Linked DNA regions of Homo sapiens: region 1 is linked to region 2. Evidence: fine-mapped expression QTL. A gene starts in region 2. The other region holds a variant in brackets. All regions are shown on one strand. Distances are between the middles of the regions. Region 1 overlaps ZNRF1 (zinc and ring finger 1). Region 2 holds the start of WDR59 (WD repeat domain 59).

The links. PIP is the estimated chance that this variant, and not a neighbour inherited with it, causes the effect. A credible set is the group of variants that fine-mapping cannot tell apart.
Region 1: its variant is the best candidate, but not a certain one, in a credible set for the expression of WDR59 in whole blood (TOPMed, PIP 0.80).

What each region holds. Positions count from the first base shown.
Region 1 is chr16:75,039,867-75,044,261 of GRCh38, reverse strand. All of the region lies in intron 1 of ZNRF1 (zinc and ring finger 1), which reads right to left. Among named protein-coding and RNA genes, the nearest start is that of ZNRF1, 43 kb to the right of the region's middle. The variant A/G (reference allele first, on the strand shown) is at 2,551.
Region 2 is chr16:74,983,007-74,987,401 of GRCh38, reverse strand. It overlaps WDR59 (WD repeat domain 59), which reads left to right and starts at 2,279. Exons shown (of 26, transcript NM_030581.4): 1 at 2,279-2,438. The coding sequence starts at 2,385. RefSeq lists silencers at 988-1,188, 2,224-2,533 and an enhancer at 1,834-1,893.

The DNA of each region.
Region 1 (4,395 bases), 57 kb before region 2:
AGAGACTCCGTCTCAAAAAATAAAATAAATTTTAAAGAAAGTCAGAGCTCTATCTGTCCTACACCTAGGGAAGGTGACATCTAAACCACTCTAAGAAATTCCAAAGTTTAAATTCTGAAAGTCAAGATCACATTTTAAAAGTACAAAGCAGCTGGGCATGGTGGCTCACACCTGTATTCCCAGCACTTTGGGAGGCTGAGGCGGGTGGATCACCTGAGGTCAGCAGTTCAAGACCAGCCTGGCCAACATGGTGAAACCACGTCTCTACTACAAACACAAAATTAGCCAGTACTACAAATACAAAATTAGCCGGGTATGGTGGTGCATGCCTGTAATCCCAGCTACCTAGGAGGCCAAGGCAGGAGAATGGCTTGAACCAGGGAAGTGGAGGTTGCAGTGAGCAGAGATCGCATCATTACCCTCCAGCCTGGGCAACAAGAACAAAACTCTGTCTCAAAAAAAAAAAAAAAAGTACAAAGCAAGAATGGCTGGCTCCTGATATGCAACAGGTTTCGTGGAAAACCAGTACTCCACCCAACCCAGGATCCCCCATGTCTCTTACATGCTATATATACCTGTGTATATATGCCATATACTGTCTCTTTTATCAGAGTTTATCAGATTGTGAGCTCTATGAGGGCAAGAACCATGTCTTATCCATTTCTGTGTATCTATCAGGACTGAAAATGATTCCTTGCATATATTATAGTTAAATGTTCTGTAAGTATTAGCTGGGTTTGAGTGAATCCAGCACAAAAAGGCCTGGTGAGGTAGAAGGAAGATAAGAACTGTACAGTTTTGGAAGGCAGCCTGTTCAAAACAAACACATGTCTAAAATGTAAAAGAAGAACAGCCAAATTTTACAAGAAAGAGAAAAAATGTTCCTTAAAGTAAAACTGAGGAAGGGAAGCACCAGTTTCCTCTCACAAGCTTCTGAAAAGATAAAACCATGTCTGGTTTCAGTGATAATGTGTTACAGGCTTAGGCAAGAACAGGTGAAAAAAATCTGATAAATGCAATCAACCATGAAGCTGGCCACAGCTCAGGGCTGAGGGAACCAGACTTGGCCAGGCTGCTTAGAAACTCATTGGTATAAATACGGCTTTAAAACAAAGGAGGCTCAAAAAGAGGAGAGATGATAAATGCATCAGTCTCAACTTGTTCTTTATTGTAGACAGTCTCCCACTTCTATTCAAGTATTTTTGGAGTGCCAACTACCAGTGAGACAAGGAGGTGGGATGACACCAAGTATAACACCAAGGGAAGCACTCAAGGGTCATCTTTACCGTCCCGGAGCTGGCCTTGGCCTGCGTTCCCACTAGCTGTTAAACCCAACATGCCAAACCTGGAAGAACGCTAATACATCAAGCATTGGTGTACAGCAGGCCTTCGCTTATTATAACCTCTAAAGAGCAGTGAGCCCATTTCAGGCCCTCTGTGAGAGGTCACAAGGACCTCTGAATGAAAAAATATCAGGATTCAAAAACCATTCTGCAGAAATCAACAGGCTGATCCTAAAACGTACATGGAAATGCAAAGGACCTAGGATAGTCAAAACCCAACATTATTTTGAAAAAGAGGAACAAAAATGGAGACTGTACACTACCCAATTTCAAAACTTATCATAAAGTTACAAGTAACCACAATAGCAACAGACACATAAATCAATGGAACAGAATTGAAAGCCGAGAAATAAACCACTACATTTATGACCAGTTGATTCTGCCAAGGGAATTCAGGAAGAAAGGATGGTCTTTTCAACAAATGATGTTGCTACAACTAGAAATATGTGTGTTTACAAAAAAAAAAAAAAAAAAAGAAAGAAACAGACACTCCCTCCCTCATACCATATCCAAAAATTAACTCAAAATGGAACACAGACATATGTAAGAGCTAAAACTATAAAACTTCTAGATGAAAATAGGAGAAATTTTTGTAACCTTGGTCTAGACACTTTTTTTTACATATACCAAAAGCATCATTCATAAAAGCAAAAAATTGATAAATTAGACAACCAAAATTAAAAATGTTTGCTCTTCCAAAGATACCATATAAGCAAATAAAAGCACAGGCCACACATTGGGAGAAAATAGTTGCAAATCATATCTGACAAAAGACATATTCATAATACATAAACTCTTACAACTCACTGACAAACAACTCAATTTTTAAAAATGAGGATATACAGAAAATCATTGGACCTTCCTCTTAATTTTGCTGTGAACCTAAAACTGCTCTATTAAAATAATTAAGTCTTTGTTTTTTGAGACGGAGTTTTGCTCTTGTTGCCCAGGCTGGACTGCAGTGGCATGATCTCAGCTCACTGCGACCTCCGTCTCCCAGGTTCAAGTGATTCTCCTGCCTCAGGCTCCCGAGTAGCTGGGATTATAGGCGTCTGCCACCATGCCCAGCTAATTTTATATATATATATTTTTTTTTTTAGTAGAGATGGGGTTTCACCATGTTGGCCAGGCTGGTCTCGAACTCCTGAGAGAATTAAGTCTTAAAAACAGAAAACAACAAGCAAGCAAAGATTTGAATTGACATTTC[A/G]CCAAAAAAGATAAGTGAATTGTTAAACACATGAAAAGGGATCATCACTAGCTAACGAAATACAAATTAAAATCACAGTGAGGACTGGGCACGGTGGCTCACGCCTGTAATCCCAGACCTTTGAGAGGCTGAGGCGGGCGTATCACTTGGGTCAAGAGTTGGAGACCAGCCTGGCCAACATGGTGAAACCCCATCTGTAACAAAAAATACAAAAATTAGCCGGATATGGCGGCATGCACACGTAGTCCCAGCTACTCTGGAGGCTGAAGTGGGAGAATCACTTGAACCCAGGAGGCAGAGGCTGCAGTGAGCTGAGATCATGCCGTTGCACTCTAGCCTGGGCGACAGGGTGAGACCCTGTCTCAAAAATAAATAAATAAATAAAATAAATTAAAATCACAATGTGGTACCACTACATACCTACTAGAATGACTATAATCCGTAAGTCAACAATACACGGTGTTGGCAAGGATGTGGCAAAACTGGAACTCTCAACCATTGCCCATGAAAATGTAAAATGTACAGCCACTTTGGAAAAGGCTGCCAGTTTCTCAAACGTTTAAACACAAACTTCTCATATGGAATCTTATGTCCACATAAAATCACGAACATGAATGTTCACAGCAGCATCATTCATAATTGTCTTAAGCTAGAAACAATCCAAAAGTCTATCAGCTGGTGAATGGATAGACTGACTGTGGTAAATTCATATAATGGAATACTATTTAGCAATAAAAACTACCGATGTCAGCACAAACTACTGATACATACTCAACACATATGAACTTAAAAACATGGTAAGTGGGCTGGGCATGGTGGCTTATGCCTGTAATCCCTGCACTTTGGAAGGCCAAGGTGGGTGGATCACCTGAGGTCAGGAGTTCGAGACCAGCCTGGCCAACGTGATGAAACCCCATCTCTACTAAAAATACAAAAAATTAGCTGGGCATGGTGGCGCGCACCCATAATCCCAGCTACTCAGGAGGCTAAGCCAGGAGAATCACTTGGACCCAGGAGGCAGAGGTTGCAGTGAGCCGAGATTGCGCCACTGCACTCCAGCCTGGGCAACAAGAGCAAAACTCTGTCTCAAAAAAAAAAAAAAAAAAAAAAAAACCCACAAAAAACAAAAACAAAAACATGGTGAGTGAAGGACACCAAACAGAAAATAATACATACTGTATGATTTCATTTATATGAAATTCCCAGAAAAGGCAAATCTAGAGAGATAGCAGTTGCCCGGTGGGGAGCAGAGATTGACTAAAAACAGGCATAGGAACTTTCTGAAGTGGCCCTTTCAGATGTGGTGGTTCACATCCGTAATCCCAGCACTTTGGGAGGACAAAGTGAGAGGATTGCTTGAGCCCAAGAGTTTGAGGCTGCAGTGAGCTACAGTCTCACTACTGTACTCCAGCCTAGGTGGCAGAGTGACGCCCTTGTTTTAAAACAATAAAAATAAAAAAAGGACTTTTTGAGAGATGGAAGTGTTATAAAATTGGATTTTAAGCCATGCGTGGTGGTGCGCGCCTGCAGTGCCAGCTACGTGGAAGGCTGAGGAAGGAGGATCCCTTGAGCCTAGAAGGTCAAGGCTGCGGTGAGCTATGACCATGCCACTGTACTGTAGCCTGAGTGACAGAGTAAGACTCAAAAAAAAAAAAAAAAAAAAAAAAAAGAAAGAAAAGAAAGAAACAAAAGATTTTAGTGATGGTTTCATAACTATATATTTACTAAATCTCATTGTACATTTATAATGTATGAATATTATGGTATGTCAACTATACCTCAGTTTCAAAACAGTAACAACCAATATCCCACAACATCTGGAGGATCCCTAACTGCAGGTTCCTA
Region 2 (4,395 bases):
GGTGGCTCACACCTATGGTCCCAGCTAATCCAGAGGCTGAGGCCGGAGGATCACTTGCTTGAAGCCACTACTTTGAAACCACCCTGGGCAACACAACGAGACCATCTCTACAAAAAGTAAAAAAAAAAAAAAAAAAAAATAGCTGGGCATAGTAGCACATGCCTGTAGTCCCAGTTACTTGGGAGGCTGAGGCAGGAGGATTGCTTGGGCCCAGGAGTTGGAGGCTGTGGTGAGCTATGCTCACACCACTGCACTCCAGCCTCAGTGACAGAACGAGACCCTTTCTCCAAAAAAATAAAAATAAAACATGAAACGGTCCAGGCAACAAGTTAGTCACCGTAATCTGTCAACAAGTCTGTCTTCCCCCTTATAGCCAATACTCCAGGAGGGAAGAGACCACACTTTCTTACCTCTATTCATACAATGACTTGCACATACAAATAGTGATAATATTAACAACAACAATAACAGTTTATTTTATTTTATTTTTATTGATTTCCTGGCTTCTAGAACTGAATTAATAGTTTATAGTTGAGCTTTTCTACATCCCAGGCCCTGTGCTTAGTTCCTTACAACAATCCAATGAGGTAAGCCATTTTTCCCTTCTATAGGGAAACTGAAGCTAAACCAGTTAAATCAACATTTAAGAGTGTGGGACTGAAAAGGAAACTTAATCACCACCCACCATGTTAGTACAGTGGTTCTCAAACTTTTTGATCTTGGAATCCCTTTACACTGCTGTTAAAAATTACTGAAAATCCCAAAAAAACTTTTTTTTTTTTTTTGACAAGGTCTTGCTCTGTCGCCCAGGCTGGAGTACAGTAATGTGATCCTAGCTTACTGCAGCCTCCTTCTGGGCTCAAGCCATCCGTCCACGTCAGCCTCCCAAAGTGCTGGGATTACAGGCATGAGCCACTGCGTCCGGCCCCCAAAAACTTTTATATGTAGTATACAGAATTTAAAAAATATATTCATTATTTCATTTAAACATTAAGGCCCTTCACATGAATACATTTTAAAATGAAAAAGAACAATATTTTCAAAAAAAAAAAAAAACAACAAAAAATTCTGGCAAATCTGTTTTAATGTTTGGTTTATCAGAAAACAGCGGCCGGGCGCGGTGGCTCACGCCTGTAATCCCAGCACTTTGGGAGGCCGAGACGGGCAGATCACGAGGTCAGAAGATCGAGACCATCCTGGCTAAAACGGTGAAACCCCGTCTCTACTAAAAATACAAAAAAATTAGCCGGGCGTAGTGGCGGGCGCCTGTAGTCCCAGCTACTCCGGAGGCTGAGTCAAGAGAATGGCGTGAAGCCAGGAGGCGGATCTTGCAGTGAGCCGAGATCGCGCCACTGCACTCCAGCCTGGGCGACTGAGCAAGACTCTGTCTCAAAAAAAAAAAAAAAAAAAAAAAAAGAAAAGGAAAGAAAGCAGCTGGATTGCAGGAGGGGGTATAGCTCACAGGTAGAGCATTGGACTACAGATCAAGAAAACAGCTGGATTCTCACATTTAAGTCTACCTTCATTGTTACGGGAGGCGCTGCTGTATTGTATGAAACAATAAATTGCACATTCAGACTTTTAAATATCTCGATGGGATAGGCATCAGGAGAAGAGGTATCTTCGGTTTGCACGAGCTTTGATTTTTCTTTTTTCTTTTTTTTTCCGAGACGGAGTCTCGCTCTTGTCACCCAGGCTGGAGTATAATGGCGTGATCTCGGCTCACTGCAATCTCCGCCTCCCGGGTTCAAGCGATTCTCCTGCCCCAGCCTCCCAAGTAGCTGGGATTACAGGCGCCCGCCACCCGGCTAATTTTTGTATTTTTAGTAGAGACGGGGTTTCACTATGTTGTTTAGGCTGGTCTCGAACTCCTGACTTCGGCCTCCCAAAGCGCTAGGATTACAGGCGTGAGTCACCGCACCCGCCCCGAACGTTGATTTTGATTTGAGACTGGGTCTGGACGAATGCTGGGGACTCCAGCGAGGAGCTAGTCAGGACAACAGGCACCTCACCTCACCCAAACCCAAACCTGCGAGCCCTTCCCAGGTCACCCACGCTTGCTCGAGCTTGGACTACAACTCCCGGCAGAGCTCGCGGCAGGGGGTGTGCCCGCAATCGCGAGGAGCGTGGGTGACTCAAACCAAGTGACGGAAGTGAGCGAGGGCGTGCCTGTTTGTTGCAGGCGCGGTGTAGCAATTGGAGGACCCAGGAAGAAGGGGCGGAGCCTATGCTTGGGTCAACCAATGGCTTGAGCTCAGGAGCAACCAGGGCACGGGGCGTGTCGGGGCTGATTCTCTGGCTGTGTGGGGCGCACGGTCCCGGGATACTGGGGACGGCGGGGTGGGAGGGCGCCGTCCTGGGGCCGCGGCGGCCGGGCGGGGGAGATGGCGGCGCGATGGAGCAGCGAAAACGTGGTTGTAGAGTTCCGTGACTCCCAGGTGAGCTAGAGGCCGAGTGGAGCCCTCTGGGCATGCGTCCTCCCCGCTTCCCCTCCCCCACGCGGCTGCTTCCGTCCCGGGGGGCTACGGGGAGACCCTAGGCCCCGTACTGAGGAGGTGGGCGGGGCTTAGCCGACCTCTTAGGCCCCGTCGGGGGAGGGAAGACGACCATCGGGGGCAATCGGGGCGAGCATGGACGGAGTTTCGGGGCTCCCTACGCGGGTAGGGGAGTGGGGTCCGCCTTGTGACACTGAGGCAGAGACTGCGCATCGTGAGTGCTGAGGGGAGGCTTCCCACAATCAGGGTACGGAGCGAGGGCGTGACGGCTTCCCGAGGCCCTAGCCGCGTGTGGCGACTTAAGGCAAGTCGCGGGACTTTTCTAAGTCTCAGCTGCGTGGACGTAACCCTGTTGGGGTGAATTCGATGAAACACTGTTTGCAAAGTGCCTGTTGCAGCGTCTACGCGGTTAAGTGGTTCTTAATGCCATCATACTGGAAAATACCGTGTAGTGGATAGGAGTGACACTGCACGTGTTGCCCGAGTTCGAATCCCGCAGCCCCTACCCTGTCATCACTCCGTACACGTCAGTTTTCTCACCTGTAGAAGGGAGATGGTCGTACTTACAAGATTGGCTTAAAGATTTTATTTTTTAATTTTCTATTTAATTTAATTTAATTTATTTTTTTTGAGATGGAGAGTCACTCTGTTGCCCAGGCTGGAGTGCAGTGGTGCCATCTTGGCTCACTGCAACCTCCGCCTCCGGGATTCAAGCAATTCTCCTGCCTCAGCCTCCCAAGTAGCTGGGATTACAGGTGCGCACCACCACGCCCGGCTAATTTTTGTATTTTTAGTAGAGACGGGGTTTCACCTTGTTGGTCAGGCTGGTCTTGAACTCCTGACCTCAGGTGATCCACCCACCTCAGCCTCCCAAAGTGCTGGGATTACAGGCGTGGGCCACCGTGCCTGGCCTATTTTACTTCATTTGAGACAGGGTCTGGCTCTGTCACCCAGGCTTGAGTGCAGAGGCGTGAATCACCGCTCAGTTCAGCTTCGACCTCCTGGGCTCAAGCTATCCTCCCACCTCAGCCTCCCCAGTAGCTGAGACTACAGGCGCATGCCAACACGCCCGACTAAATTTTTCATTTTTTTTTGTAGAGACGGGGTCTCCCTATGTTGTCCAGGCTGGTATGGAACTCCTGGGCTCAAGCGAACCCCCTGCCTCAGCGTCCCAAAGTGTTGGGATTACAGGTGTGATTCACTGAGCACAGCCTCGAGTGAAGATTTTATGTGGTTGTATGTTGAGGATGTGTGGCACACACAGCATTGGGATTTGGATGCTGGATCCTACCCCAGAGCCCTTGTTTAGCTCATTGGACTACTTTACTCATAGTGGGTAGCTCTGAACCGGTCATATACATCCCCTCTTCCCCAGCACCTAGGACAGTGTCTTGGTGATTCTCTTCAATTTTAAATTTATTTACCTTTTTTTTTGAGACAGAGTCTCACTCTATGACCCAGACTGTAGTGTAGTGGCATGATCTTGGTTCACTGCAACCTCTGCCTCCCAGGTTCAAACGATTCTTGTGCCTCAGCCTCCCGAGTAGCTGGGATTACAGGCACGTGCCACCATGCCTGGCTAAGTTTTGTATTTTTTGTAGAGACGGGGTTTCGCTCTGTTGGCCAGGCTGGTCTTGAACTCCTGGCCTCAAGTGATCCATCTGCCTTGGCCTCCTAAAGTGCTGGGATTACAGGTGTGAGCCACTACACCTGGCCTATTATTTTTTGTAGAGACAGAGTCTCTTTGTGTTGCCCAGGCTGGTCTTGAACCCCTGGCCTCAGGCGATTCTCCCACTTTGGCCTCCCAAAATATTGGGATTACAGGTGTGAGCGACTGTGCCTGGCCATTCTTTTCATTTATTCAACTAATATTTATCAAATACCTTCTGTGTGCCACACT